Linked DNA regions of Homo sapiens. The protein of the gene in region 6 purifies or fractionates together with the protein of the main gene of each other region. This does not show direct contact. Each region holds a gene or a part of one and is shown on either strand. Other genes may lie near its edges. The genes, in order: TRAFD1, WRAP53, EDRF1, NPEPPS, ALDH3B1, CDK20 and NFXL1.

Region 1 (4,400 bases), on a different chromosome or scaffold from region 6:
AAACAATGCTATTCAAAGCCAAAGAAATTAAAGAAAAAAGCAGATTAGCATAGAAGGCTGACTAAACCTGTAAAGAATTAATTTCTGGCTGTTTGTGTTTAGTGTTTGGAAAGTTCTTGGGAATTTTTCTGGAAGCTTTGGTTTGCCTTTCAGCTATTTCTATCTAAATGAAATTTCACCTCTAATTTGCTAGCCCTTCCTTGAGACTTTTAGCAGTTTTATCTGGATACGGAATTGTGTGCTCATTTATCTCACTTAAAACATCTTCATTTTCTCCGAAGGTAGGAAGTAAGCATATTAGTATTTGGTCTGGTTGGAATGTTTGGTAGGAATATGTTGGCAGTTAAATTTTAAAAGAAAAAAACCCAGCAGGCAACTGTTTTATATAATTGTTGCAAATATCTTTTTTATTTCAGCATTTCCTAAGAGGTGAATATGTGCAATAGTAAATGCTTTGTGGTCTTACTTGACAGCTGCTTTTGATTCTTGTTGCTTCATATTATGATGGTGTGGTCCTTAATATTTTTTGTTTTAATTCTAAAGTTTTAGGGGCCTTGTGTATGTAGTATGTCAACAAGTTATCCTGAACAGCCTTGTAAAGTAAATGCTAGACATTTAGTGTCTCCATATTTACCATTAAAATAAAAATTATTGCCAATATTATGAAAAAGGAACCCAGGTTTTCTACACCCTAAGCAGTAATTACTGGCTTTAATTTTCATGGCATTTGTACATACATGATTTACAATCACAATATAACATTTCTTCTTTCACTTTGTTGGTATACTATATGTAACTTAGCTATTCCTTTCTTGCTTAGGTATTTTTAATGACTTTCATTTTTTACCATTCTATGATACTGTAATGAAAATATTCATACATAATCCCAAGAGTAGGATTATTGTGTTACAGAGTATATAATTTTATGGTCCTAGAAATGAATTTTCAGACTGTTTTTAGGCAGTTTATACTACCACCAGTAATGTATTAAAGTATTCATTTCACAACATCTTTAAAAAGTTGGGATGTATTATTTTAACTAAATTAATTCAAAATGAGTAGTTTCCTTAGAAAGCTAAAAATTTGAGAGAAATATGGGAAGTTAAATCTGTCAGTAATTTTCCTCTTTATCCATTTGAGTTTTCTTCCCATCTCTCACAGTTGATTGTTCTGTCACCTTCCAGTGCTGCTTTGAGAGCTGCCTTGGGGTCCCTAGCTTGATAATTCCACCACTGGATGAAAATGAATTTGCACTTCCTTGGTGTCTTGGTCTTTCAGTTTGGAAGAATGACTATAGCTGGAGGCACATCATTTATCCTACTTCAAAATGTTTCTTAGACAATGTCTGAATATTAAAGGTTATTAAAAGAGAAATAAGCTATTTATAATTTAGTATGGGAGACAGTTCTTCTAGTATTCAGCTTCAGAGGCAAAATATGGTATTAAATAATGTGTTTTATGACTATCTGTATTGATCCTGTTCAGTATTTTATTTTTCTGAATTATTGTTATACGTACCTTCTTTAATGTAGTTTTTAGCTGGTGAAATTGGAATTTTACAATGGTCCTATCCAAATAAGTAAAAGTAAGGCCTTTGAATAGAATGTACCTTTAGTTCGAGTACATGTATAATCTTTTCATGTTTAAATGGTCTTACTCTTTCATGTAACATTATCACTTTACCTCCTTAATTTGTATAGCTTAGATATGATCTTTGAACCACTAAACTAAGTGAGAAAGGCAAAAATGAAGTGGAGAGACCAGACTGGTGGAGGAAAGGGTTCAGGATTTCATTTTTGTACAGCTTTACAGTGAAGTTTCTACCAACCCAGCCAGAGAGCATGTTCCTGTAGTCAGGAAGCATCCAGCCTGCTTCGAAAGGCATGTGAGGCATACAGGAGACAATTTCCCCTTCCCCTTTGACTGTCCAAAAGCTGGAGTCTTCTCTTTTTGGTTTGACTTTTCATGGAATAAAATCCAATGAAATTAAACTACTTAAAAGTGAGAGAAAATCAGTGGTAGGGTGTTTTTTCACTTGTTTTTGTTGTTGTTTTGGTTTGTTTTCTGTTTTAAAATAATCCTGGAGCGTATCACTCTGCTTTGGGACATGGATGGTTTTGGAATAGCCTAGCTCCACTCTTTTTGGCATCTGACTTCATGTTGTGATCAGCTCTGACTTTGAGAAAGTAAGGCTGAGCTTTTAGATGTAGTAGTGCATAGCACCGGTAACTCAGAATGTTGCACAGAAGAGCCTTCAGGATTTAGTTCTTTTTTTTTTTTTTTTTGATACGGAATCTTGCTATCCCCGAGGCTGGAGTGCAGTGGCATGATCTCAGCTTTCTGCAACCTCTGCCTCCCGGGTTCAAGTGATTCTCCTGCCTCAGCCTCCCGAGTAATTGGGATTACAGGTACCCGCCACCACACCTGGTTAATTTTTTATATTTTTGGTAGAAGCGGGGTTTCACCATGTTGGCTAGGCTGGTCTTGAACTCCTAACTTCAAGTGATCTGCTTGCCTCAGCCTCCCAATGTGCTGGCGTTACTGCACCTGGAAAGGATTTAATTTTTTTTTTTTTTTTTTTTTTTTTTGAGACAGAGTTTTGCTCTTGTTGCCCAGGCTGGAGTGCAATGGCACGATCTAGGCTCACTGCATCTTCCGCCTCCCGGGTTCAAGCGATTCTCCTGCCTCAGCCTCCTGAGTAGCTGAGATTACAGGCATGTGCCGCCACACCTGGCTAATTTTGTATTTTTAGTAGAGACGGGGTTTCACCATGTTGGCCAGGCTGATCTCGAACTCCTGACCTCAGGTGATCTGCCCGCCTCAGCCTCTCAAAGTGCTGGGATTACAGGCGTGAGCCACGGCGCCCGGCCAGTTTTTTTTTTTTTTTTTTATAGCAACCTCTGCCTCCTGGGTTCAAGCGATTCTCCTGCCTCAGCCTCCCGAGTAGCTGGGATTACAGGTGCCCGCCATCACGCCTGGCTAATTTTTATATTTTTAGTAGAGATGGGGTTTCACCATGTTGGCCAGGTTGGTCTCGAACGCCTGACCTCAGGTGATCCGCCTGCCTCGGCTTCCCAAAGTGCTGAGATTACAGGCATGAGCCACCGCGCCTGGCCAGGATTTAGTTCTTGAAAAGCAGGAATGGTAATAGTCATGAGTTTGTAGGCTAGGTATTCACTAAAGATAAATAATGGAGACTAAAGATTGGACAGGACAGATTTCCATGTGATGCCACTGTGCAAGAAAAGGCATAGATTAGTCAGTAATGCTTGCCTTTTTCTTTGGTCTATTTCCGTAGCAAAAAAGAAATTCCTGTGTTTAACTTTACCATCCATGAGATCCACTGTCAAAGGAACATTGGTATGTGTCCTACCTGTAAGGAACCATTTCCCAAATCTGACATGGAGACTCACATGGCTGCAGAACACTGTCAGGTGAGCCACCAAGTACTCAAATGTTTATACATGTGTTATACTTGCTGTTGTTCGTAAATGTATTCTGTTTGCTATTGTGCAATAGCAAATGAGCATATTGTCCCAAAGCCAATTTACTGATTCTCACTTCTTACTCTAGGTGACCTGCAAATGTAACAAGAAGTTGGAGAAGAGGCTGTTAAAGAAGCATGAGGTTAGTCCATGGAGTGAGTTACCGTGGGCCCAGTCCTGCTGAGATTACAGACCCACATGCAGAGCAGGAAGCCAGTCTGGTTGAGTGTTAGTTCTCCGTGAGCTCACATGCATACTGTTTCTCAAAGCCTGTTTGAGGCCTTGACTATGTAACTGCTGCCAGATTCGGCTACCTGGCTGTTGGAACTCACTTGTGTATGTTGAGACTCGCGAAGTATCTCCCTTTGGAACTGAGTCTATTATTTCTGTTGGGGTTTGGTTATTGGCAGCCTCACTGAATATGAAGCCAGCCCTAGAGTTGCCAGTATGGGATAACCTCTTTAGCACACAGCCTGCCTTACAAGCTGTCATTTCATTTAAAATTCTTTTTTGTTTGTTTGTTTTTTGAGACGGAGTCTTGTTCTGTTGCCCAGGCTGGAGTGCAGTGGTGTGATCTCGGCTTACTGCAACCTCTGCCTCCCAGGTTCAAGCAATTCTCCTGCCTCGGCCTCCTGAGTAGCTGGGATTATAGGCGCCCACCACCACTCCCAGCTAATTATTAGTAGAGACGGGATTTCACCATGTTGGCCTGACCTTGTGATCTGCCTGTCTTCAGCCTCCCAAAGTGCTGGGATTACAGGCGTGAGCCACCACATCTGGCTTCATTTTAAAATCTTGAACACCTGGATAACATGCTATTTAACCTAAGAAATTCCTCAGCATTTGGTGAGAGAGAATAGAGTATCATTTGCTCGCTAGTTGAGATAAAACTGGCCAAAGGTTTTTTTTTTTTTT
Region 2 (4,400 bases), on a different chromosome or scaffold from region 6:
GCAAAACCTCATCTCTACAAAAATACAAAAATTAGCTGGGTGTGATGGTGGGTGCCTGTAATCCCAGCTACTTGAGAGGCTGAAGCAGAAGAATCATTTGAACCCAGGAGATGGAGGTTGCAGTGAGCCAAGATCATGTCACTGCACTCCAGCCTGGGTGACAGAGTGAGACTCCATCCCAAAACAAACAAACAAACAAACAAACAAACAAACAAACACAAAACAAAAAACCCAGAATGCTGGTATAGCCAGACTGAGGCAAGTGAGGGGGACAGAGGGGTGAGGACAGAGAAGAGCAGCCACGTCGTGTTGGTTCTTATGGGTAAGGCATTTGGAGTTTATTTGGGAAGTCATGAGAGAGGTGTTTTTTTTTTTTTTTTGAGACGAGTCTTGCTCTGTCGCCCAGGCTGGAGTGCAATGGCGTGATCTCGGCTCACTGCAACCTCTGCCTCCTGGATTCAAGCGATTCTCCTGCCTCAGCCTCCCGAGTAGCTGGGATTACAGGCACCCGCCACCATGCCCAGCTAATTTTTGTATTTTTTTAAATAGAGACGGGGTTTTACCATATTGGCCAGGATGGTCTCGTACTCCTGACATTTGATCCGCCGGTCTCGGCCTCCCAAAGTGCTGGGATTATAGGCATGAGCCACCGCGCCTGGCTTAATTTTTGTATTTTTAGTAGAGACAGGTTTTGCCACGTTGGCCTGGCTGGTCTCAAACTCCTGACCTCAGGTGATCCACCTGCCTCAGCCTTCCAAAGTGCTAGGATTACAGGCGTGAGCCACCATGCCAGGCCATGAGAGAGGTTTTTTTTGTTTGTTTGTTTGAGACAGAGTCTTGCTCTGTTGTCCAGGCTGGAGTGCAGTGGCACCATCTCAGCTCACCGCAACCTCCGCCTCCCAGGTTTAAGTGATTCTCCTGCCTCAACCTTCCGAGTAGCTGGGATTACAGGCATGTGCCACCACACCCGGCTAATTTTTTTGTATTTTTTTAGTAGAGATGGGGGGTTCATCATATTGGCCAGGCTGGTCTCGAACTCCTGACCTTGTGATCTGCCCACCTTGGCCTCCCAAAGTGCTGGGATTACAGGCATGAGCCACTGCGCCCGGCCAAGAGAGTTTTAAAACAGAAGAGTGAATGGTTTATGGGTGGGCAAGAGTGAAATCCAGGGCCAGGCACGGTGGCTCACGCCTGTAATCCCAACACTTTGGGAGGCTGAGATGGGTGGATCACCTGAGGTGAAGAGTTTTAGACCAGCCTGGCCAACATGGTAAAACCCTGTCTCTACTCAAATACAAAAATTAGTTGGGGCTGGGTGCGGTGGCTGACTCCTGTAATCCCAGCACTTTGGGAGGCTGAGGCAGGTGGATCACCTGAGGTCAGGAGTTCGAGACCAGCCTGGCCAACATGATGAAACCCCATCTCTATTAAAAATACAAAAAATTAGCTGGGCGTGGTGGCGGGCGCCTGTAATCCCAGCTACTCTGGAGTCTGAGGCAGGAGAATTACTTGAACCAAGGAGATGGAGGTTGCAGTGAGCCAGGATTGCACCACTGCACTCCAGTCCAGGCAACAGTGTAAGACTCCGTCTCAAAAAAAAAAAAAAAAAAAAAAGATTGGCTATAGTTTTCTCCCACCCATCCTAATCAGGTTCTGCCTCCATCGCTTCCTGAAAGTGCTCTTGTCAAGGTCACTAATGTCCTCTTGGGTCATTCTCCTTTTTTTTTTTTTTTTTTTTTTTTGAGACAGAGTCTCGCTCTGTCACCCAGCTGGAGTGCAGTGGCGCCATCTCAGCTCACTGCAAGCTCTGCCTCCCGGGATCACGCCATTCTCCTGCCTCAGCCTCTCCCGAGTAGCTGGGACTACAGGCGCCCGCCACCACGCCTGGCTAATTTTTTGTATTTTTAGTAGAGACGGGGTTTCACCATGGTCTCGATCTCCTGACCTCGTGATCCTCCTGCCTCGGCCTCCCAAAGTGCTGGGATTACAAGCATGAGCCACCGCGCCCAGCCCCTCTTGGGTCATTCTCTAAATTCGCCTCACTGCATCTCTTAGCAGCATGAGTCACTGTCTCCACCTCCCTGCGCTGGAGCACTCAGGCACTCAGGGCTCTGCTGGGCCTTCTCCTCCTCCATCAGCACTCTTTCTTTTTTTTCTTTTTTTTGAGACGGAGTTTCAAAAAATCAGACCCACCAAGGCATGTGGCAGTTGTGTTGCTCTTTGCTCGGTACCCGCTAGAGGTCTGTTGCCATTAATTTGAAATGAGACCAGTTAGTGTGACTGTGCATCTTTCCTGGCAAGTTAAATGACTATAGTTTCTCTGTTTGTAAAATGGGGATGATTATAATAGCACCTGCCTCACAGAGTTGTGAGAATTAAAATAATCAGTAATGAATTAAAGCACTTAAGGCCGGGTGCGGTGGCTCACGCCTATAATCCCAGCACTTTGGGGGGCCGAGGCAGGTGGATCGCCTGAGGTCAGGAATTCAAGACCGACCTGGCCAACATAGTGAAACCCTGTCTTTACTAAAAATACAAAAATTAGCCGGGCTTAGTGGCGGGCGCCTGTAATCCCAGCTACTTGGGAGGTTTGAGGCAGGAGAATTGCTTGAATCCAGGAGGCGAAGGTTGCAGTGAGCTGATCGCACCACTGCACTCCAGCCTGGGCAAGAGAGCAAGACTTAGTCTCAAAAAAAAATAATAAAATTAAAAAAAAGTACTTAAAACAGCACCTAGCATATAGTAAGTGTTCGGTAAACACTAGTAGTCACTGGTATCAGTTGTGTGCAAGCCAAGAATAGGAGGATGGTATGGTTGAGGTTTACCAGGAGAGAAAGACAAGGGTATCCTGAGAGTGTCTTCAAGAGTGTGCATGCCATGGTGGACTAGAATCTACAGTGGGTAAGGAACTGGACTGTAAATAAGTTTTTGATGAAGCTGAATAAATTGTCATGGTAGAAATAGCAGAGCAGGGTCAGGCCTGGTGGCTCACGCCTGTAATCCCGACACTTTGGGAGGCCGAGGCGGGTGGATCACCTAAGGTCAGGAGTTCGAGACCAGCCTGGCCAATATGGTGAAACCCCGTCTCTACTAAAAAAGATACAAAGTTAGCCAGGCATGGTCGTGATTATGATATTAATGATTATAATATTAAAACATTTTAAAAAATATATCTTGCAATACAGATAGTCAATTTGTTTTCTTTTTTTCTTTCTTTTTTTTTTTTTTTTTTTGAGACAGAGTCTCGCTCTGTGGCCCAGGCTGGAGAGCAGTGGTGTGATCTTGCCTCACTGCAACCTCTGTTTCCCGGTTCAAGCGATTCTCCTGCCTCAGCTTCCTGAGTAGCTGGGATTACAGGCACGCACCACCGCACCCGGCTAATTTTTGTATTTTTAGTAGAGATGGGGTTTCGCCAAGTTGGCCAGGCTGGTCTCAAACTCCCGACCTCAAGTGATCCACCCATTTCCGCCTCCTAAAGTGCTGGGATTACAGGCGTGAGCCACTGCTCCTGGCCAGTCAGTTTGTTTTCAAAAGATTTTTGTGGCTGGTGTGGTGGCTCATGCCTATAATCCCAGCACTTTGGGAGACCAAGGTGGGAGGAATGCTTGAGCCCAGGAGTTTGAGACCAGCCTTGGTAACACAGCCAGATCCTGTCTCTATCAAAAAAGTTGGGCCTATGGTCCCAGCTACTTGGGAGGCTGAGGTGGGAGGATCGCTTGAGCCTGCGAGGTTGAGGCTGCCATGACCTTTGATTGCACCATTGTACTCTAGCCTGGGCGACAGAGTGAGACTCTGTCTCAAAACAAACAACCAAAACCTTTTTGTGCTTTTTTTTTTTTTTTTCCTGCTAGTGTACCAGTTCTATCGCAACCTCTCTCATTAGGTATTTTCATTTTTAGTGTCTACAAGCTTAGCATTTGAAATAGATAACTTTTTTTTTTTGAGATGGAGTCTTGCTGTGTCCCCCAGGCTGGAGTGCAGTGGCGCGATCTCAGCTCACTGCAAGCTCCGCCTCCCGGGTTCACGCCATTCTCCTGCCTCAGCCTCTCGAGTAGCTGGGACTACACGCACCCACTGCCACCACGCCAGGCTAATTTTTTGTATTTTTAGTACAGTCGGGGTTTCACCATGTTAGCCAGGATGGTCTCGATCTCCTGACCTCGTGATCCGCCCGCCTTGGCCTCTCAAAGTGCTGGGATTACAGGCGTGAGCCACTGCACCCGGCCTTAAATAGATAAAATTTGTATAGGTCAGAAAATTGGGGAAGGGTGTATTTGGGTATTTCCATATACTTGTGTGTACTGAGTCTTCTTCCCAATATAGTTTCTCGGGTTTTCTCCTTTCTTTTCCACCTTTTCACAGAACTTTCTGCAAGTCTCATTTCCAGCTCCCCAGCGTCT
Region 3 (4,400 bases), on a different chromosome or scaffold from region 6:
TATCAGCAGAGGAAAAAAATCCATACACACATTAAACCATAATGAAGACTAAGTACCTTTCATTGCCTTGAAAGACTTGTGTTCTAGCTGATTAAAAAATGAGAAACCTTCAGGCTGGGGGAAGGGGTGGGTGTTTTTGTTATTTGCAGAGCAAAATTTTCCACAGTATTTTGTTCTTTGTCTGTTAATTACACTTAACATATTTTGTTGTGGTTTATGTTATCAAGGATAGAGGCCATATAACTTCATGTCACAGTTTCCAGTGCCTGGCACAGTACTTGGCAGAAAAATGATCATTTGTTGAGTAAAGAAGGTAGCGATGGGCTGGACTTTAAATAAAGAGTATTCCTTGTAGAGGAAACAGTAAACTAAGATGGGAGATAGGAAAAACAGGCATGTTTATAGGTGACAAGCAGTAACTTAACATTGGCTGATGGGTAGTAGGATGGACAAGTAGGAAGTGAGACTGAGAAACATGCAACTAGCTAAGTGGGGAGAAGCCGTTTTCATGTTTGAGGACAGGCTTTCACGCTGATCTAAGCTGTGCTTTAGGAAGGTAAACTTTGACAGGTTGACACATAGACTGGAAAAAGGAGACAGGTGTCACTCATGAGGTTAGCTATGTCAGTGACACTGGAAGAGAATGACAGAGTTGCCGATGTCAGGGAAGCAGAAGGCCTTAGAACTCCCAAGTGAGAGTCTTTTAACACGGCCATTTCACTCCAGTGTATTTAAGCAGTAAAGCATAGTATTTACCAGTCTTGTCACCTAAGTCTAGAGTGTTTCCATCAAGAAACAGAAAATATTTTTTGTGCATGAGACTTACAGTCAAATGAAATGTGCTGTCTTTTTTTTTCTCTCCATGTCACAGTGGGCTCCCTTCAGAAGGGCAATTATTCCAGTCAATCTGGAATGATCCCTGGCTCTTGGCAACATAAAATGAAACTTCAGCTGATTCTCAAGTCATCAAAGGCCTATTATGTTTTGTCCGATGCTGCCATGAGTCTTCAGAAATACGGAAGAGCATTACGATACATTAAATTAGCTTTGCAAAGCCATGGTAAGCCACTATAAATGAATATGTTTAATAGGCACTGGGAAGAGAGAACAGAGAAGGCATCTGAATCACAGTGGAAGTTTACTCCTATTTTTCTAGTAAATCTTTATTTTAAAATGACTGTTTCCAATCCTGTGTGTGTTACCTTCTATTTTAGTTTCTGCTCAGTGGTTTAACATCTCTTTGCTTTGAACTACATGAAGCCGTAATATGTATTGTTGGACCTAAAATAAACAGAATAGATACAGTGCTACAAAGCGTTCAGCTGGTAACACAGTTTCTTCATATTTCCTATGATCATTAATTTTTTTCTGCATTTGTGTTTTTTCTTCTTCCCTCCCTTTCTAAACAGATACTTATTGCTGCCTCTGCACCAATATGCTTTCCGAAGTGCTGTTGTTTCTCTCTCAATATTTGACACTTTGTGGTGATATCCAACTAATGCTGGCCCAGAATGCAAATAATAGAGCAGCACACCTTGAAGAGTTTCATTACCAAACAAAAGAAGACCAGGAGATCCTGCATAGCCTTCACAGAGAGTCCAGTTGCCAAGGTGTGCCACAGGCTTGGACCACGTGGTTCACAGTGGGACTGTGCAGTCTAGCTCATGCTTATTTGAGTATTCAGAAAAGGGGTAGAAATATTAGAGTTTTGATATTTGCTCTGTATTTATTTATTTATTTTTTGAGACGGAGTTTCGCTCTTGTTGCCCAAGCTGGAGTGCAATGGTGCAATCTTGGCTCACTGAAACCTCCGCCTCCCGGGTTCAAGCAATTCTCCTGCCTCAGCCTCCCAAGTAGCTGGAATTACAGGCATGCGCCACCATGCCCGGCTAGCCCACCTTGGCCTCCCAAGGTGCTGGGATTACAGGTGTGAGCCACCACGCCTGGCCTGCTGTTTTATTCATTTCCTAATTTTAAGATTAAGCATGATCTTGTGTATTTGTATAAAATGGTTTTTAAGTATTTTATAATTACTGTTTATATAACTAGAACTAAATATAAAGTAAGATATGAAGACAGTTGTGTCAACTTTTTATTTTATTTTATTTATTTATTTTTTTGAGACACAGTCTCGCTCTGCCACACAGGCTGGAGTGCAGTGGGGCAGTCTTGGCTCACTGCAACCTCCACCTCCTGGGTTCAAGTGATCCTCCCATCTCAGTCTCCCAAGTAGCTGGGACTAGTACATGCGCCACCACACCTAGCTAATTTTTGTATTTTTGTTAGAGACAGGGTTTCACCACGTTGCCCCAGACTGGTCTCAAACTCCTCAACTCAAGCGATCCTCCCACCTTGGCCTCCCAAAGTGCTGGGATTACAGGCACGAGCCACTGCACCCAGCCTTGTGTCAGCTTTTTACACTCTTCTTTTCATGAGGTTCTTCTAGGTAACACTTGTAGTCAGCTAACAAAGCCATAGGTTTCCTTTTGAAAGGTATAACAGTTGGTGAAGGAGGTTAATTAACCTTCTGAATGATTCCTTGGGGCTGAAATAAAGTGATCATTGTTTTTAAAGTTAGTTCATAGCCACCTGTCTTGCTTAATATGTCACTCTGTTTGGAATTGTCAGGCTTTAAAACTGGGAAGTAGAATAATCTGATCCGCAGCAGCGATATCCCTCCCTCTTACCTCAGCACAGTGTGTAACCACGCTGCCATTAACACAGTGAATGAAGTAAAAGATGAGTCTTCTGAAGGTGCTTCTGTAATGTCTCATGGGGTTGTTTTATTATGCTCTTAAATTGTTATACTGAATATTACTTGATGTTTGCCTCCCAGAGTTTTAGACAATTCATAGCTAGAGGAGTATACTGGGGGAGAGGGAAAAATGTGTTATTTTGTAATAGTTTTGCCCTTTCTTCCCCTCTCTCCGTCTTTCTCAAATAATCATGTTTTAATGTAGTAGGAAAGTCCTTGGTGTATTTTTACTACTCCCATCATAGCAATTTCAGTTAAATATTCTTTTTACTCTAGTCCCCACTAGATGGCATTTTTAATCTTCGAGGGCTTCTGTAGCAGCCTCTTCAGTGACTTAAAGTTAATATTGGGACATTATTTCAAGAACTATTTCCATTAGTTAAAAATAGCAACTTTACTTTGTATTAGTGGACAACTTTAGGTCCATTCTAATAAACAAGTGTACCTGGGAAAACCTGGGTCACAGAAATTGTTTGATATTCATAGGCAGGAAAATATTTTTATCCAACATTAATATCCCAAGAAATATAATTTTATAAATAAATAGATCTTTATTATGAAACTTAAATATTGTTGTATTGATTGAATCTTGGTATACTTACACTATATTGCATTTTTTATTACTTAGAATTTAGAATCTCAGGTTCATTTGGATACTGAGGAAGAAGGAATCACATGATTCGCATTGATGTATCCCTTTTTTCTTTTCAGGATTTGCATGGGCAACTGATTTGTCTACAGACTTAGAAAGTCAACTCTCTGTTAGTTGTAAATGTTATGAGGCTGCTAATGAAATCTTGCAGTTTAGTGACTTGAAAAGCCAAAATCCAGAACACTATGTACAAGTATTAAAGAGAATGGGTAACATTAGAAATGAAATTGGTGTGTTTTACATGAATCAGGCTGCTGCATTACAGAGTGAGAGACTAGGTGAGTATCTCTTTAGATTCCTCTCTATTGCTTGTTCTCTCAGAAAATTATGCTAATTTTGTATGAGTCAAGCAAAGAACTGTGGCACTTGATTTTATATCATAAAGAGGTGCTCTATTAGAGAACCTCTTATTATTCTTAAGAAATAGAATTAGGAACACATGATTTTCCCTTGGAATGAATTATTTCAATGTTCTTCATTCTTACTTTTGTACTCACTCCATCTGATCAATTCAGAAGCAAATGGGACATCCAGCCATGTGCCAGGCTCTATGTTGGATATGTAACTGGCTAAAATATGGTTCTCTCTTCATGTTGGGAAGCTAGATAGGAACACAAAGCCTCAAAATGCTGTGGATGAGTACCGACGAAGTATAATGGGAGACTGGGGAAATAAGACATTTATGGAGGTTATAAGTTAGAAGGCTTTTGGGAAAGTGTTGTTGAGCAGGGTGATGCAGGATGTGTAGAGCATCAGCCGGCAAATGTGAGGAAAGGAGGGCACTCCAGACCAAGGAGGCGGTGTGAGGAAGAAGCCAGGGATCTCAAAGGGTGCAAGTGTACGTTTAGAGGGAGCAAGAGGCCTGTGTGAGGAAGATGTGGGATAGTGGGTAAGTAAGATGTGGGATGGCGTAGTAAGATGTGGGATGGTGTAAGTAAGATGTGAGATGGTAAACCATTTGGGCCCATGTTGAATTTGAGTTCACTATGGAAC
Region 4 (4,400 bases), on a different chromosome or scaffold from region 6:
ATTGCTTGAGCCCAGGAGTTCAAGGCTGCAGTAAGCTACGATGGTGCCCCTGCCACTCCAGCCTGGGCAACAGAATGAGACCCTGTCTGGGTTTGCGGGAGAAGTTATTTACAATGTTTTGAAAATATCCTTTAGCCCAGGCATGGTGGCTCACACCTGTAATCTTAGCACTTTGGGAGGCCGAGGCAGGTGGATCACTTGAGTTCAGAAGTTCCAGACCAGCCTGGCCAACATGGCAAAACCCCCTCTCTACTAAAAATACAAAAATTAGGCAGGCATAGTGATACATGTCTGTAATCCCAGCTACTGGTGAACACTCCAGCCTGGTGACAAAACAAGACTTTGTCTCAAAAAAAAAAAAAAGAAAAGAAAGGAAAAGAAAATGACCCTCAGATATAATTCTCATATCACCAGTTGGCCTTTCTTGACATCTCTTTTAGTCTTCTCTCTTTTTCAGAAATGTGAGTTCTTTGCCAAATGTTTTGAACTGAATTTTAGGTCATTAAATTGTGAGTTTGGGAATATAGTGGAAGGGACATGTGAGTGTTTTAGATTAGTAGAATGACAATCATTTCATTTTCTTTAAGTATTTTCATCTTTTGTTTTTAGGAATGGTGGACTCATCTTTGGTTAAATGAAGGTTTTGCATCCTGGATTGAATATCTGTGTGTAGACCACTGCTTCCCAGAGTATGATATTTGGACTCAGTTTGTTTCTGCTGATTACACCCGTGCCCAGGAGCTTGACGCCTTAGATAACAGCCATCCTATTGAAGTGAGCCATACTTTCTAACCATTAGCCTATGACTGCTCTCATTTACAATGAAATACGTAATTTGTTACATAGATACTTTGGACTTTGAAAATAAGAGAAAATAGCATGGGTGATTTTACTGGTTCATATTTCTAGTCTTGAAAAGCTAGTAAGTCTAAGTTCTAATTAACATTTCTTTTTAAGGTAGGCAGTAAAAAAAAATTGGTCTGGCCAGGCGCAGTGGCTTATGCCTGTAATCCTAGCATTTTGGGAGGCTGAGGCAGGTGGATCACCTGAGGTCGGGAGTTTGAGACCAGCCTGACCAATATGGAGAAACCCCGTCTTTACTAAAAATACAAAATTAGCTGGGCACGGTGGCGCATGCCTGTAATCCCAGCTACTCGGGAGGCTGAGGCAGGAGAATCACTTGAACCTGGGAGGCAGAGGTTGCGGTGAGCCGAGATCGTGCCATTGCACTCCAGCCTGGGCAACAAGAGCAAAAAACTCTGCCAAAAAAAAAGAAAAAGAATAGTATGGGAGAAGTCATACCTATTGGGTAACACTATGGTTCCATTGTTTATGTCAAGGAAAATTCTGGACATATTTTATTGTCAGGGTCTGTTTTGTGAATACTTTAATTCTCTTGACTTAGCCTATCCCTACTTCAGTTTATATATATAAATTTTGTATCTAAAGAACTAGAGTTATAATGCTACTTCAACATATTTAATTAGGCTCCCATATAATTGTAATTCATTACAATTAGTGCAAGAAATCTAATGTTCTTCACCTCCATATCTTCCTCATCACTCCTCTGCAACTACCCCAAAAATAAACAGAACCATAGTGGCTTCTTTCCCAGCAGAACAAAGCCAGGACTGGAACCCAGGCTCTAAGGGATGACAGGAATCATGTTCTATTCAACTTTATTATTATTAGTTACTACATTTTTTTGAGGACCATCGTTATACATTATGAGTGAGTTAAAGGCAGAAAAATGTAAGTTAGAAGGGTTTTCCTAGAAAGCGTTTTATGTAATTCAGTATTACAGGCTATCTGCTTCCTGTCATAACCCTGAATCACACTGTCTGCCAGGTCAGTGTGGGCCATCCATCTGAGGTTGATGAGATATTTGATGCTATATCATATAGCAAAGGTGCATCTGTCATCCGAATGCTGCATGACTACATTGGGGATAAGGTAAAAAAAAACTTTAAATATTTCATTCTTTTATGGTGAAATCATAAGAGTTTTGCATGAAAAAAAGTCTCACTTTATTTGGATTAAGTTCCCAAATAGTTTCTGGCTTGTCATTTTTTTTTAATGACCAAAAAGAATGAGAATTCAATTATTTGAAGTTGACTACTCTGGTCTCTTAGATGAGTGATGTGCAGGTGTGTTTGGGAGTGGAAATGGGAGGCTGTTACAAAACTTAAGAGCAAGAATAGAAGGCATAGAGTACGCATTATTAAATAAAAGGCAGTAGGCATCAGAAGGATATATGTGTTTCAGTGTATCTGATACTTGAGTATTTGAGTAAATTTGTTTTTGATTACTGATATACAAATATACTATAAATTCTGAGATCTGACTTCCCTGGATTTTAAAAATTGTGTTTTCTCAGGACTTTAAGAAAGGAATGAACATGTATTTAACCAAGTTCCAACAAAAGAATGCTGCCACAGGTAATCTCTAATAGCTTGAGATAGAAATGGAGAGAAAGTATTGTCACTCTATCCAGGCTGGGACATTTTATTTTTGTTCTGAATACTTAAGGTCAGGATCCATGTAATAAATAAATTAGCCTTATTTGAAGCTGTGTTCAGGTTGAATATCTCTAATCTCAAAATCTGAAATTTGAAATGCTCCAGAATCTGAAACTTTTTCTTTCCTTTCTTTCTTTTTTTTAATTAAAGTTCTAGGGTGCATGTGCACAATGTGCAGGTTTGTTACGTCAGTATACATGTGCGGGCCATGTTGGTTTGCTGCACCCATTAACTCGTCATTTACATTAGGTATTTCTCCTAATGCTATCCCTCCCCCAGCCCCCTACCCCATGACAGGCCCTGGTGTGTGATGTTCCCCGCCCTGTGTTCAAGTGTTCTCATTGTTCAATTCCCACCCAAAATCTGAAACTTTTTGAGTGCCAACATGATGCTCAAAGGAAATGCTCATTGGAACATTTTAGATTTTGGATATTCCAATTATAGATGCTCAGCTAGTAAGTATAATGCAAATATTCCAAAATCCAAAAGAAATATGAAATTCAAAACATTTCTGGTCCCAAGCATTTTGGATAAGGGATACTCAACCTGCAGTAAGTCATAGGGTCAACATGAATCAGGACTCGTTATCCCTTTGGTCATCCTCCAGCATTCTGCTTTCCATAACTGAGTATTTTGCCAACTTAAAGAGTCTGGGCCGGGTGTGGTGGCTCACGCCTGTAATCCTAGCACTTTGGGAGGCCAGGATGTGCGGACTGATTGAGCCCAGTTCAAGACCAGCTTGCAACATAGCGAGACCCCACCTCTACAAAAAATACAAAAATATTAGCCGGGTGTGGTGGTATGTGCCTGTAGTCCCAGCTACTCAGGAGGCTGAAGTGGGAAGGGTCACTTGAGCCCAGGAGTTTGAGGTTACAGTGAGCAATCATGGCACCACTGCACTCCAGCCTGGGCAACAGAACAAGATCCTGTCTGAAAAAAATAAAAAATAAAGGGAATACAGTCATGTGTTGCTTAACAACAGGGATATGTTCTGAGAAATATGTTGTCAGGCAATTTCATCAATATGTGAACATCATAGAATGTACTTACAGAAACCTACACAGTATGTCCTAGGCTATGTACACCTAGCCTACATGGTATATACCCTGTTGCTGCTAGGCTACAAAATACCTGTACAGCATGTTACTGTACTGAATACCATAGGCAATTATAACACAATGGTATTTGTATACCTGAACATTTCTAAATATAGAAAAGGTACAGTAAAAATATGATATTAAAGATGCTCCACCAGCTGGCTGATATGCCTATAATCCCAGCACTTTGGGAGGCTGGGGCAGGTGGACTGCTTGAGTCCAGGAGTTTGAGACCAGCCTGGGCACCATGCCAAAACCTCGCTTCTATAAAAAGTACAAAAATTAGCTGGGTGTGGTGGCATGTGCCTGTAGTCCCAGCTACTTGGGAGGCTGAGGTAGGAGGATCACTTGAGCCTGGGAGGTCAAAGCTGCAGTGAGCTGTGATTGGGCCACTGCACTCCAGCCTGGGCAACAGCGAAACGCGGTCTCAAAAGAAAATAAGGTGCTACACCTGAATGCAGCTTATAGGACAACTTATAGAGGTTGTTCTAGTTGAGTGAGTGGTGAGTGAATATGAAGGCCTAAGACATTACTATACACTACTATAGATATTATAAATACTTTACACTTAGGCTACACTGAATTTATAAAAATAATTTTTCTTTCTTGAATAATAAATTAACCTTAGCTTACTGTAACATTTTAAATTTACTTTTTAATTTTTTTAACTTTTTGATTCTTTTCAATTCTTTTTTTTTTTTTTTGAGACAGAGTTTCGCTCTTGTTGCCCAGGCTGGAGTGCAATGGTGCAGTCTTGGCTCACCACAACCTCCGCCTCCCGGGT
Region 5 (4,400 bases), on a different chromosome or scaffold from region 6:
GGATAGCCTTCTGCTCTTCTGGATTTGGGTTTTCCAATGTGAGGAGCTGGGTGGTATCAGGCAAGCTCTGGCCCTCTCTGAGCCTCAGCCTCCATCTCCTTCAGTGGGGTGAATAGTGGTCCCTCAGTGGGCGGCCGTGGTGGTGAAATGAGCGAGGGCAGGCATGGGGATCACACTCCTTACAACCTCACACTGTGGGATGAGTGCCGCGGGGGTGGGCTTGGGGGACCCCAGCCCAGTGCCTGATTCAGGAGTTCCCTATTCTGTGTGTCCACAATGGCTGCCCAGCACCCTCGGGAGATAACAGGCCCAGGATCCCCCCAATCTCAGGCAGAAGGCGGCCTTGGCTTCTCCGCTTGCCAGGGTCCTGCCCTGGGCACTCCCTGGGGGCCTCAGTCCAGAGTGAGTGACCCGTAGGGGCAATGCCAGGGCTGGTTGCCCTGTGGGAGAGATGTGTCCTGTGGCCCTGGTGAGTTGGTTTCAGCGTTGCTAGGAGGGTTGCTGGAATGTTCCCTGCAGAACTCCATCCCCCACAGAGCTCCCGGCCCACAGTCCACCATTCACGTTACGTGCCTTGCATTTTTGTGGTTTCTGCAGAGATTCTTACAAAGGGTGAGAGAGGCACAGGCGTGGTTTGCCTTTGACCACTGGCAGAAGTCTGAAGGTGAGAGTAGAATGGAGAAGGACCCAGGAGAGTGCGGAGTTGAGGGAGATAAATATTTGCAGGCTACTTAGCAAAACACCCAGAGCTGACCTTTGTCGAGTACTTTCTGTGGGCACAACAGCAAATGTTTTATGCAGCGTGATGTCATTTAATCCTCACAATGACACCAGGTGCCATTAGCATCCCCATTTCACAGATGAGGAAACCGAGGCAGAGAAGGTGAGTGATTTGCCCAAGGTCCCACAACCAGTAAGAGGCAGAGCCCGGAGACAGGCCTGATGGTGGCTCGAGAGGCTCGTTCTTGGCTCCTGGGTCTCAGTCCTGCTCCCGTGACGAGCCATCCCCTATGGGGACCATGGTGCCTGTCCTGTGTGCGGGCCACTGCCCAGCTTCTCCCAATCAGAGCAGGAAGATGGTGGGTTCAGCCTGGCCCCACAATCACTCCAGCTGAGGGCTGGCCTGGGGCTCCTGACCAGGCTCTCAGTAGCACACTGGTCCAGCAGGGCCATCCTGCAGACCGGAGCAGGTCCCGCCCTCAAGGTGGCCACTTAACAATCACCCACAGCCTTGCGCTCACCGATGCTGGGCCCTGGGCTCAGAACCGACTGTGTGGTCTCATCATTAGCTGGCAGGTGCCATCATTACACCGGTAACATGAGAGGCTTCAAGCACTAGGTCTCAAATAAGTAGGCACAGAGGGGCCTGCCTCCCAGTCTAATGAGGGGGAAATAAGGGAGATGTGGACAGGGTTGGGAGGTGGGTAGAGTGTAACCAGACATTTATCACATGGCACAACTCAGAACGCTGGGGAGCAGAGTCAAGGGGCCACTGTGACAGTGGATGAGGGCATAATCTGGGTGGGCTGCCTGGAGGAAGCATCAGCCAAGCTGAGATCTGGAGGAAAGGGACTCGGAGAGGGAAGGAGGAAAGGGTCACCACGGGTCCTTGGCACCAGGCCGAGGAACGAGTGCGTCAGAGTGCTCCTCCGATGAACTTCAAGTAAACAGGCAGGGCTCGGGGGAATGTCTAGGCCCCTACCCTGCCTGCCAGCTCTGGCTGGCACCAGCACGGAGGCAGGAACGCCCTCTCCCCCGCCCTGATCCTCTCCCCCACAGCTGTTTCTGCCTCCCAGCACCACAGCCCCGGCAGGGTGGGCAGCAGGGCCTCCAGGAGGCCCGAGGTGTTCTCCCCCTCTTCCTGAGGAAGCTGAGGCACAGGGAGAAGAGGCTATTGCCCACTGGCCTGGCCTCCCTGGGCAGTGCCCCCAGGCTGGGGACAGAGGAAGACGGAGAATTCTGTGTCTGGAGTGCTCCAAGGTGGTGGCCATGGTGGCAGTGAGTCACCCCCTCTACTCATCAAGCTCCTGCTTACACCATTCAGACTGGCAGGGGTGAGGCTGCCCCGCCTCCAGGAGGGGCATCAGGGCAGGGCAGAGGCCATGGCTTGGGGTTAATTTCTGTGCGGCAGGAAGAAGCATGGCGCTCTGCCTGCCTGCTCACCCTCGGGGGCTGTGGTGGAGCAGCTGTCCCCAAGCCCACACCCAGTCCTGCAGCCGCCTCCAGGTCCATGGCAGAGGGGAGTGGTGCGAGGGTCTTCATGTGTGTCTGGGAGTGCTCACTGTTGGGTGAAAGGGGTTGCAGGCAGCCTCAGTCCCTGTGGGGTCATCTGAGTGGGTCCCTGTGTGTGTATAAGGTAGAGGTGTCTGCAAGCCCCTGTGGGTGCAGGCAGGTCAGGGGTGCCCAGACCCTGGGGCGGCTGGGTGGTGCCCATGAAGGAGGGGCAGCCCTGGCCACCCAGTTCATGCCACCCCATCTGGCAGGATGGACCCCCTTGGGGACACGCTGCGGCGACTGCGGGAGGCCTTCCACGCGGGGCGCACGCGGCCAGCTGAGTTCCGGGCTGCGCAGCTCCAAGGCCTGGGCCGCTTCCTGCAAGAAAACAAGCAGCTTCTGCACGACGCACTGGCCCAGGACCTGCACAAGGTGGGCTGGGGTTGGGGGTATGAGAGGGTGCACTGGGGCAGGGGGGCATGGAGGGCAGCTGGGACAGCAGGGGATGAAGACACCTGCGCCCTCCATGAAGCGGGGCTAAAAGCAGCTCCTCCCCTAGGCCAGAGCCACCCTTGCACATTCATCCAGTCACTTATTTCTGTATTCATGCAGCAACTATTTGCTGAGCACCTACTATGTGCCAGGTACTGTTCTAGGCTCTGGGGATATAGCAGAGAATAAAACACAGTTCCCATGCCTACGAAGATGACCTTCTATCGGAGACAATAAAACAGCAAATAAATAATTGCACAGCAAGGCCGGGCATGGTGGCTCACACCTGTAGTCCCAGCACTTTGGGAGGCCGAGGTGGGCGGATCGCTTGAGGCCAGGAGTTCAAGACCATCCTGGCCAACATGGCGAAACCCCGTCTCTACTAACAATACAAAAATTAGCTGGATGTGGTGGTGGGCACCTGTAATCCCAGCTACTCAGGAGGCTGAGGCATGAGAATCGCTTGAACCTGGGAGGTGGAGGTTGCAGTGAGCCAAGGTCACACCACTGCACTCCAGCTTGGGCAACACAGTGAGACTCCATCTCAAAAATAATAATAAAGATAATAATTACACAGCATATTGGGTTGAAATATGTGCCCTGGAGACACACCCAGGGTGAAGGGGAGAGAGGGGGCCAGGATCAGGGTGCTGTTGTATATGTGGGGGTCAGGGAAGGTTTCTCTGAGAAGGGGGCTTTAGAGCAGAGACGTGAAGATGGAGGGGAGGCTCCCCATGGATGCTGGGGAGATGGCAGCGGGCACAGCACGTGCAAAGGCCCTGAGGCAGGAGGTGCTGGGTGTTTCTGCTTGAGGAGCAGCAAGGAGGCCAGCATAGCTGTCGGGGGTGGGAGAGGAAGAAACAGCAAAGATGAGGTCTGGGGTATGGGCCACACTATGTAGGGCCTCGGAGGCCGTGAGGCCTTGGCCTTCTCTCTGGGTACAGCAGGCATCATGGCCTCTGTCTAGACCCTGAAGGCTTGGGGCCTCAGCCCCTCCCAATCCCAGTGGCAGCCAAGGCAGAACCCCAAGAAACACACTTCCCCCAACCCCTCACCCATCAGGGCCCATGCACCTGCCTGCCCCTGCCTCAGGACACCTGCCCCTGCCTCAGGACACCACCTGCCCCTGCCTCAGCACATCTGCCCCAGGGGCTGCCCCCGGCTCCTATTCTCTGGACAAAATATCTCCTCCCTTTGCCTTGAAGGCTGTAGTGTTCAGACCTTCCCCCAGCCCATTGGGCTCCCTGGGGACTGACTCCCCCGCCACCACTGAGCTTCTGCCACCGGCCGCCTGCCGGCCTTCATGAGACTTGACCTGACGTCTGTCTGGTCCCTTTTCTCCCTTCGGCTCTGATTCCACCTCCTGCCTTCCCATCCCAGCTGCAGGAGCGGGGCCCTACAAAGGCAGCAGTAGCCCAGAACATTCAACCTGGTCCCTCCCTCTGGACCTGGTCACCCCCCTGTCCCCACCCTCAGCAGGCAGCATCTGCCCAGCGTCACGTGCACCCTCTCAGTTAACCCTTTGGTGAATCTGGTTGGGCAACCACACCCAGTGGCCCCCAGAAGAGGCTCAGAGAGAGTGTGTTCTTGCCCAAGGGCATGCAGCCAGGAAGAGCAGAGCCAGAGTTTGAACCTGGCTCAAAATAGCCCAGTCTCCCAAAGTCAGGTCCCAGGTGACCTAGGAGGTGTGGCGG
Region 6 (3,697 bases):
GCCTTGGAGCAGGTGTGCCTCTCATGAGTAGACCCCACTGGACATCCCCAGACTTCCCCTGAGGGTGGCCCATACGAGGGGCATGCCCAACTCTCAGGAGAGCGCGTGTCCGGGAGTGCAGGTTTCTGGGCTGCCCCTGACCCTGTGGCAGATACAGTAAGAGAGTCACTGGGGACTCATTCCTTTATTCCATTAGCAAGTATTTTCTGCACATCTGGCACATGCAGGGATTGTCCTGGGCCCTGCACAGATGGTAAACAATCAGTCCTACCTCCGCGGGGCACTCCTGGTGGTGAGGTAGCTCCAGGTCCAAAAGGTCACAAGAGGTCATGTTCTCCAGCTGTGGGAGCCCCAGGAGAGAGGCAAGGCCGACTTTGGGGTCAAGCAAAGCTTCCTGGTGGAGGGCAGGTTTAAGCATGAGATGTTTGAGGAGGTGTTCGCTGAAGAGAGAAATGGTGGGCAGAGGCCTGGAAGAGAGGACCCAGGAAGGCTGGTTATGGCTGGTAGGCCTGGGAGGACGATGACCACAGGAGCATGGGCTGACAGGTGTCAGGGTGTCTCTCAGGGGTCCCTGTCCCCTCCCTGCACTCAGCACCAGCCGCGTGTGTTTACATACGCCCTCTTGGTCTCCACTGTCAGCAGCTCCTGTGGGCTCTGTGTCCACAGTGTACCCAAGCCGTGTGACCCTTATCTCTTGGGTTGCCTCCCAGAATCTGGGTCTCCCCTCATCCCATTTAATCTCTTCTCCACCTGGCAGACAGAGTAACTTTATCCAAGTAGAACAGGACACATTCCTTCTCTGCCAGGGCCCTCCTGTGGCTCCATCTCAGAGGAAAAGCCAGGGTCCTTTTTGTGACCCACAGATGTCGTATGCTTGGGTGCCATCACCTCATGACGCTGCCTGCTGTTGTGCCCTGTGCTCACTCCTCTCCAGCCCCAGGGGTCAGTACACTTTTGTCCCTGGCCTGGAGCCTCATGTCCCACTTGCTTATGTCTCAAGTCTTGGCTTAAATGTCACTTCTCAGATGGCCTTCCCTCATGACTCTTCAGATCTGCAACCTCTCTCCAGGATTCCTCATTCCTCTGTCTTGCTTTCTCTCTTCCACTGCACTAATCATTATCTGACATACTGTGTATTTTACTTCATCTTGTTTATTACCCCCCACCCTCACTTATGTCAGAAAAACAGAGCTTTTGTCTGTTTTATTAACGGCTATGTTCCCAGCTTCTGGAATAGTGCTTCAGACATAGTAGACACTCAGAAAACACCCAGACACACTGAGTCAGCTGAATGCATAGATGAAGGAACATCTGCTTGAGGCTGGGGACAGGGAGGTGACTAGTTTCCTTCTGCTGTTCCTTACTTGCCACCCTCAGGCTCTCCTCCATCAGTACTTCTTCACAGCTCCCCTGCCTGCCCATCCATCTGAGCTGCCGATTCCTCAGCGTCTAGGGGGACCTGCCCCCAAGGCCCATCCAGGGCCCCCCCACATCCATGACTTCCACGTGGACCGGCCTCTTGAGGAGTCGCTGTTGAACCCAGAGCTGATTCGGCCCTTCATCCTGGAGGGGTGAGAAGTTGGCCCTGGTCCCGTCTGCCTGCTCCTCAGGACCACTCAGTCCACCTGTTCCTCTGCCACCTGCCTGGCTTCACCCTCCAAGGCCTCCCCATGGCCACAGTGGGCCCACACCACACCCTGCCCCTTAGCCCTTGCGAGGGTTGGTCTCGAGGCAGAGGTCATGTTCCCAGCCAAGAGTATGAGAACATCCAGTCGAGCAGAGGAGATTCATGGCCTGTGCTCGGTGAGCCTTACCTTCTGTGTGCTACTGACGTACCCATCAGGACAGTGAGCTCTGCTGCCAGTCAAGGCCTGCATATGCAGAATGACGATGCCTGCCTTGGTGCTGCTTCCCCGAGTGCTGCCTCCTGGTCAAGGAGAAGTGCAGAGAGTAAGGTGTCCTTATGTTGGAAACTCAAGTGGAAGGAAGATTTGGTTTGGTTTTATTCTCAGAGCCATTAAACACTAGTTCAGTATGTGAGATATAGATTCTAAAAACCTCAGGTGGCTCTGCCTTATGTCTGTTCCTCCTTCATTTCTCTCAAGGGAAATGGCTAAGGTGGCATTGTCTCATGGCTCTCGTTTTTGGGGTCATGGGGAGGGTAGCACCAGGCATAGCCACTTTTGCCCTGAGGGACTCCTGTGTACTTCACATCACTGAGCACTCATTTAGAAGTGAGGGAGACAGAAGTCTAGGCCCAGGGATGGCTCCAGTTGGGGATCCAGCAGGAGACCCTCTGCACATGAGGCTGGTTTACCAACATCTACTCCCTCAGGATGAGCGTGAGCCAGAAGCAGCTGTGTATTTAAGGAAACAAGCGTTCCTGGAATTAATTTATAAATTTAATAAATCCCAATATAATCCCAGCTAGTGCTTTTTCCTTATTATAATTTGATAAGGTGATTATAAAAGATACATGGAAGGAAGTGGAACCAGATGCAGAAGAGGAAATGATGGAAGGACTTACGGTATCAGATACCAATATTTAAAAGTTTGTATAATAATAAAGAGTATGATTGTGGTTCAAGGATAAAAACAGACTAGAGAAACTTATTCTTAGCCATCCTTTATTTTTATTTTATTTATTTTTTGATGGAGTCTTGCTCTGTTGCCCAGGCTGGAGTGCAGTGGCACAATCTCGGCTTACTGCAACCTCCGCCTCCTGGGTTCAAGTGATTCTCCTGCCTCAGCTTCCCGAGTAGCTGGGACTACAGGCGCGTGCCACCACACCTGGCTAATTTTTGTATTTTTACTCAAGACAGGGTTTCACCATGTTAGCCAGGATGGTCTTGATCTCCTGACCTCGTGATCTGCCTGCCCGGGCCTCTCAAAGTGCTGGGATTGTAGGCGTGAGCCACCATGCCCAGCCCCAGGCTCCCTTTATTTTTAAAATGTTTATTTTATGCTTCATGTGGATAAACTCTTCTGTGAGCACTCAGGGTGACTAACACTGCTACAGATGCTGGCCTTCAAGCACTTAGTGGAGAGAGAAAACATACTCAACCCTCGTTCTTGGCTTTCAGGAAAGTCTGATGTTTTCATGATATGGCCTCTGTTTATTTCTCCAGCCACATCTTCTGCAGACTGTAAGCTTCTAAGAGAACTTCAAAGAGAACTCTAAAATGTATATAACATTTGCAAGTAAAAGGAGAAAAAATGATTTATCGTGCATACACAAACCAAAAATCTGGTGTAGTTATTTGATATCAAATAACAGAGGCCGGGTGCAGTGGCTCATGCCTGTAATCCCAACACTTTGGGAGGCCAAAGTGGGCAGATCACCCGAGGTTGGGAGTTCGAGACCACCCTGGCCACCATGGTGAAATCCCATCTCTAATAAAAATACAAAAATTAGCCGGGTGTGATGGTGCATGCCTGTAATCCCAGCTACTTGGGAGACTGAGGCAGGAGAATCGCTTAAACCTGGGAGACAGAGGTTGCAGTGAGCCGAGATCGTGCCACTGCACTCCAGCCTTGGTGACAGACTTGTCTCAAAAAAAAAAAAAAAAAAAGAAAATAGATTTTAAGGCAAAGAGCTGTTATTTAATATAAGATACAATTTCAAGGCAAAAATCATTACTAGTGATAAACACATTCAGTTCTAATTATATTCAGTTCATTGGTAAAATTTTTCAAA
Region 7 (4,400 bases), on a different chromosome or scaffold from region 6:
TGATACTGTTGTTTAGAATAACAAAAAGGTTACGTTTGATAACAAAAAGGTTCCTCTGCTGAAGATGAATGAAAAATTGTCATTGTTAAGTATAGAAACAGATATAATATGCCGAATGAGAACCGACTTAAATATCACTATCAACTTTAAAAATACAACTTGTAGTCATTCTTTAGGTAAAATAAAAATAAAACTTGATATGTGGGTTAGGATAACTTGACTTGCATTAACATCAAGAATATATGTGTCAAAACACATTTGGTGTTTTGTATAATAAATGTTATGTTTGACCCTACGATGTTTTACCTCTAATCTTCTCTTTTTCTGTGTTCATTATTTGAATTATAATTCTTAATTTGTGTTTGTTTTAGGGAACTATTTTGAACTTCTAGAGGCACTTAAGCCAGGATATTGTCCATCTTTAATCTTTTTTTTATCAGGTTAACTCCCGGTCCATGTTTTGCTTGGTCCTGACACCTAGGCAACAGTCTCTTTAAGATATTCATTTCTTCATTGAAAACTCTTCTTCCTTTATTATTTCATTTCTGATAGAGTTCCTTACTGGGAAAACTAGAGTGGAAGAAAGCCCTTAAGATGATGACAGAACCTCTTGGAGCGAACTTTATAGCCTGCTTTAAAGATTTCTTTGATTTTGTTTTTTTATATTTTTGCCAACCCATAACAAAAGAGCGTAAAAAGCTGAAACCAAAATAACATTTTTTTTTATGTTTAGAAGAGAAATATTTGGGATTATATCCTAAAATGGTGGCTTAGTACTTAGTCTTTCACAAAGCACAATTAATGGAAAATTGACTGTGCTTGCTACTAACCAATATCAGGTCATGAGAAAGAAGTTATTGGGAATTCATCTAAAAATTGTGTACTTGGATAGATGTATGAAAGTAGGCCAACGATATTATTGTTAATGTTAAATTTTCCAAAGACTTAAATCCATTTTTGCTTGTTTTAGTTTTGAATGAGTAATGTGTTAAATTTGTTATTTAGAACAGAAGTTTTAGCACATTTTAGAGAAATGTCTAAAACTTTATGAGGTACCAGTGTACAGAGAAAAAAGTGTTATAAATCAGAGGCTGGGTGCAGTGGCTCACGCCTGTACACCCAGCATTTGGGAAGCTGAGGTGGGAAGATTGCTTGAGTCCAGGAGTTTGAGACCAGCCTGGATGACATAGTGAGACCCCTCCATCTCTATAAATAATCAAAAATTAGCTGGGCATGGTGGTGTGTGTCTGTAGTCCCAGCTACTTGGAAGGCTGACGTGGGAGGATTGCTTGAGCCCAGAAAGTTGAGGCTGCACTGAGCTGTGATCATGCAACAGCACTCAGCTTGAGCAACAGGTTGAGACCCTGTTACAAAAAAAAAAAGAGAAAAGTATTACAAATAAAAAGTATACAGCTTGTTGAATTTTTACAAACTGAACATAGCCAGGTAACCAAAACTTACATCATTAAACAGAACATGACCAAAATTTTCAACACCTTCCTTGCATCCTTCATAGCTATCACTCTGATTTTGAACAGTACATTTTTTCTTGTTTACTTTATATAAATGGAATCATGCACTATGTACTCCTTGTGTCTGGCTCAATGTTTTGTGGTAAGATTCATTCATGTTGTTGTAGTTTCTTCATTCTTGTTGTAGAGTATCCCATTGTGTGAATATACTAAATTTATGTATTTTACCATTAATAGGCATTTGGGTAGTTAAGGAAACTTTTTAATTGTCAGACTTTTTTTTCAGGCAGTTGCTATCCCTGCCCAGAAACCGTAGATGTGAAGTGTAATTGTGGCAATACAAAGGTGACAGTGCCCTGTGGCCGAGAACGTACCACAAGACCACCCAAGTGCAAGGAGCAATGCAGGTGAGTTTGAAGCTTTGCACAAGCTTCCATCTGATGTTGTACAAATTTAAATTCATATTGGCTTTTAATAATTTAATTTTGCTTTAGTGTTTTAAAATATTAATATTCACAGTATACTCATTCTATATGGAATCAGAAGATATGTAAATAGATAATTGTCCTTTAGATGTAATTATTCAATGACTAAAAGTAATTTTTGAAAATTGTACTTTATGATTTAGTCGACCACCAACTTGTCATCATACAAGTCAAGAAAAACATCGCTGTCACTTTGGTTCTTGTCCACCATGTCATCAACCTTGCCAAAAAGTTTTGGAGAAATGTGGTCACTTGTGTCCTGCTCCGTGTCATGATCAAGCATTAATAAAGCAGACTGGCAGGGTAAGGGAATAATACTATTAGAGAAATAGTGCATTGCTGTGGGTTGTACTTTCTTGCTTTTACTTAGTTTTTCAATGAGCAATGATTAAGCACTTATTGGGAAGCACTGTGCTTGGAGCAGGGTACAAGGTAATCAAGACTTGATTTTGTTTTAAGCAACTCACAGTGTAGGAAAGGAGTGAAACCATTGTTTGCAAATACAGTGTGATAGTTACATTATGATCATGATACAGGTGAATTTGGCAGTCCTCCTTCATATATTGTGGTTTAGGGTTATAGATATCTCCTATAATCTTATTTTAAAGATTTATTCACTTTTTAATATTTTATTTAATATTTATTTATTTTTAGTTATTTAATTTTTTTTTTTTTTGAGACGGAGTCTCACTCTGTTGCCCAGGCTGGAGTGCAGTGGTGTGATCTGGGTCACTGCAACCTCCACCTCCCGGGTTCAGTGACTCTCGTGCCTTAGCCTCCTGAGTAGCTGGGATTATAGGTGCCTGCTACCATGCCCAGCTAATTTTTGTAGTTTTAGTAGAGATGGGGTTTCAGCTTGTTGATCAGGCTGGTCTCGAACTCCTGACCTCAAGTGATCTGCCCGCCTCCGCCTCCCAAAGTGCTGGGATTACAGGTGTGAGGCACCACGTCCAGCCCAGCCTCATGAACATTTATTGAGCCCTTACTAAATATCAAGCTTTTTTTTAGGTGCTGAGGAACAACAGTGAGTAAAATGATGGAGATTATATTCAATTGCTAGATGTTGGAGTTTCCAATTGTTTTTCTCATTTCCTTATTGGAAGTAAAGGAGGCTACACTGCCTTTGTTCTACCATTTATAAACTGGATTCTGTCTCAGTTATTAATATCAAATGTCTGTGGAGAGGAACAATTTCATTTAATACAGATAAAATGAAATATTTCAGTAAGCACAATTTATTGATTATTTGAAAAAATTTCAACCTGCTTGAGCAGAGGATACATGGAACTATTTTCTTAGATTCTTAAAATGGCCATATGATTTAATCCCTCTGACTTAAAATTCTTATGTATTTTATTTGTAGCACCAGCCTACAGGCCCTTGGGAACAGCCTTCTGAGCCAGCATTTATTCAGACTGCATTACCGTGTCCTCCATGTCAAGTTCCTATTCCTATGTAAGTATTAGAATTTCAATTAAAAAAAAAAAACAAAAAACTTTTGACATAGCTTAAAGGGTATCTGAAGTCAATCTCCCTTTTTTCTTAGTTCAGTTCATTATTATTTCAGGCCTAGCCTATCAACTAGTGTGTCTGTCTTAACCTTCATTCTTTTCAAACATGTTTGTCATACTTGCATATAAACCTACTATAGATATCTTTTTTTGAGTCTTTACCCCCAGTTGGAGTTTGATGCCCTTCTTAGCTTTCCATAGCGAGTGCATGCAATTACAAAAACAAATCCAAGGAACATCATTTGTTACTTTTCCCGATGATTCCCATACTGGATTGTAAGCTCCCTGAAGACAGAAGAAAGCCAGGTTTTAGATAAGGCAAACTTGGGGAATATTTAAAGGAAGCCTTGGAAATGAGAGGAAGTAGTTTCCTGGATGGGCCAGTGAATGACTGGGACTGAGCTCTAAGGAGCTGAACCTACAGTAATACGGAATCCTGGAATTTTTTATACTTCCAGCAGAGGTTATGGAGTATAGGGGAAAAAGCACAGAATGCTGAGAAGCAACATAAAGTTAGAAAAGGGGCTGTTGTCTACAACTGAGGTGCCAAATTAAACATTGGTATTTCTGGTGTATTGGTCTTTTAAAGAGAGGATTGTTTTTGTTTTTTAATTCTAAAAGCTTTCATTTCCACAACATTCCTCCCAGTTGAAATAGCATGTATATTTTTGTGTATTGGTCACACAGTCAAGTTGGGAGGCAAAGTGTTGTTAGGAGATATATGCACAAATAGGGTAATTTTAGTCTGTAGATTTAATGGAGGTGGGCTGTGTAGTTAGCAGAGAGGTTTTTCATGTAGGTATTCAGTTATTTGAGACTATTCTTTTACTGAGGACTTAAGTTATAATCATGAGGAACCAAGTTGTTGCTAATATCTCTAAGTTAGAATTATTAGTGGCCTAAAATTTTTCCTTGAGAGAAACAGAAGAGAC

The links.
Region 1: the proteins of CDK20 (region 6) and TRAFD1 purify together in Homo sapiens (affinity purification with mass spectrometry; one large-scale study listed by BioGRID and IntAct). This does not show direct contact.
Region 2: the proteins of CDK20 (region 6) and WRAP53 purify together in Homo sapiens (affinity purification with mass spectrometry; one large-scale study listed by BioGRID and IntAct). This does not show direct contact.
Region 3: the proteins of CDK20 (region 6) and EDRF1 purify together in Homo sapiens (affinity purification with mass spectrometry; one large-scale study listed by BioGRID and IntAct). This does not show direct contact.
Region 4: the proteins of CDK20 (region 6) and NPEPPS purify together in Homo sapiens (affinity purification with mass spectrometry, with the first as the bait; one study listed by BioGRID). This does not show direct contact.
Region 5: the proteins of CDK20 (region 6) and ALDH3B1 purify together in Homo sapiens (affinity purification with mass spectrometry; one large-scale study listed by BioGRID and IntAct). This does not show direct contact.
Region 7: the proteins of CDK20 (region 6) and NFXL1 purify together in Homo sapiens (affinity purification with mass spectrometry; one large-scale study listed by BioGRID and IntAct). This does not show direct contact.

Annotation. Positions count from the first base shown.
Region 1 is NC_000012.12:112,131,440-112,135,839, forward strand, and holds part of TRAFD1 (TRAF-type zinc finger domain-containing protein 1), read left to right. Parts: intron 1-3,298; coding exon 3,299-3,434; intron 3,435-3,573; coding exon 3,574-3,627; intron 3,628-4,400. UniProt on the Homo sapiens protein: Negative feedback regulator that controls excessive innate immune responses. Regulates both Toll-like receptor 4 (TLR4) and DDX58/RIG1-like helicases (RLH) pathways.
Region 2 is NC_000017.11:7,691,029-7,695,428, forward strand, and holds part of WRAP53 (telomerase Cajal body protein 1), read left to right. Parts: intron 1-4,400. UniProt on the Homo sapiens protein: RNA chaperone that plays a key role in telomere maintenance and RNA localization to Cajal bodies. Specifically recognizes and binds the Cajal body box (CAB box) present in both small Cajal body RNAs (scaRNAs) and telomerase RNA template component (TERC).
Region 3 is NC_000010.11:125,739,592-125,743,991, forward strand, and holds part of EDRF1 (erythroid differentiation-related factor 1), read left to right. Parts: intron 1-871; coding exon 872-1,060; intron 1,061-1,409; coding exon 1,410-1,610; intron 1,611-2,628; coding exon of another isoform or gene 2,629-2,648; exon of another isoform or gene 2,649-3,323; intron 3,324-3,466; coding exon 3,467-3,685; intron 3,686-4,400. UniProt on the Homo sapiens protein: Transcription factor involved in erythroid differentiation. Involved in transcriptional activation of the globin gene.
Region 4 is NC_000017.11:47,590,108-47,594,507, forward strand, and holds part of NPEPPS (puromycin-sensitive aminopeptidase), read left to right. Parts: intron 1-609; coding exon 610-774; intron 775-1,796; exon of another isoform or gene 1,797-1,848; coding exon 1,849-1,953; intron 1,954-2,377; coding exon 2,378-2,438; intron 2,439-4,400. UniProt on the Homo sapiens protein: Aminopeptidase with broad substrate specificity for several peptides. Involved in proteolytic events essential for cell growth and viability. May act as regulator of neuropeptide activity.
Region 5 is NC_000011.10:68,012,814-68,017,213, forward strand, and holds part of ALDH3B1 (aldehyde dehydrogenase family 3 member B1), read left to right. Parts: intron 1-2,483; 5' UTR 2,484-2,484; coding exon 2,485-2,646; intron 2,647-4,400. UniProt on the Homo sapiens protein: Oxidizes medium and long chain saturated and unsaturated fatty aldehydes generated in the plasma membrane into non-toxic fatty acids. May have a protective role against the cytotoxicity induced by lipid peroxidation.
Region 6 is NC_000009.12:87,965,340-87,969,036, reverse strand, and holds the end of CDK20 (cyclin-dependent kinase 20), read left to right. Parts: intron 1-169; exon of another isoform or gene 170-467; intron 468-863; coding exon of another isoform or gene 864-942; intron 943-1,364; exon of another isoform or gene 1,365-1,377; coding exon 1,378-1,575; 3' UTR 1,576-2,596; downstream 2,597-3,697. UniProt on the Homo sapiens protein: Required for high-level Shh responses in the developing neural tube.
Region 7 is NC_000004.12:47,883,358-47,887,757, reverse strand, and holds part of NFXL1 (NF-X1-type zinc finger protein NFXL1), read left to right. Parts: intron 1-1,758; coding exon 1,759-1,879; intron 1,880-2,100; coding exon 2,101-2,260; intron 2,261-3,320; coding exon 3,321-3,412; intron 3,413-4,400.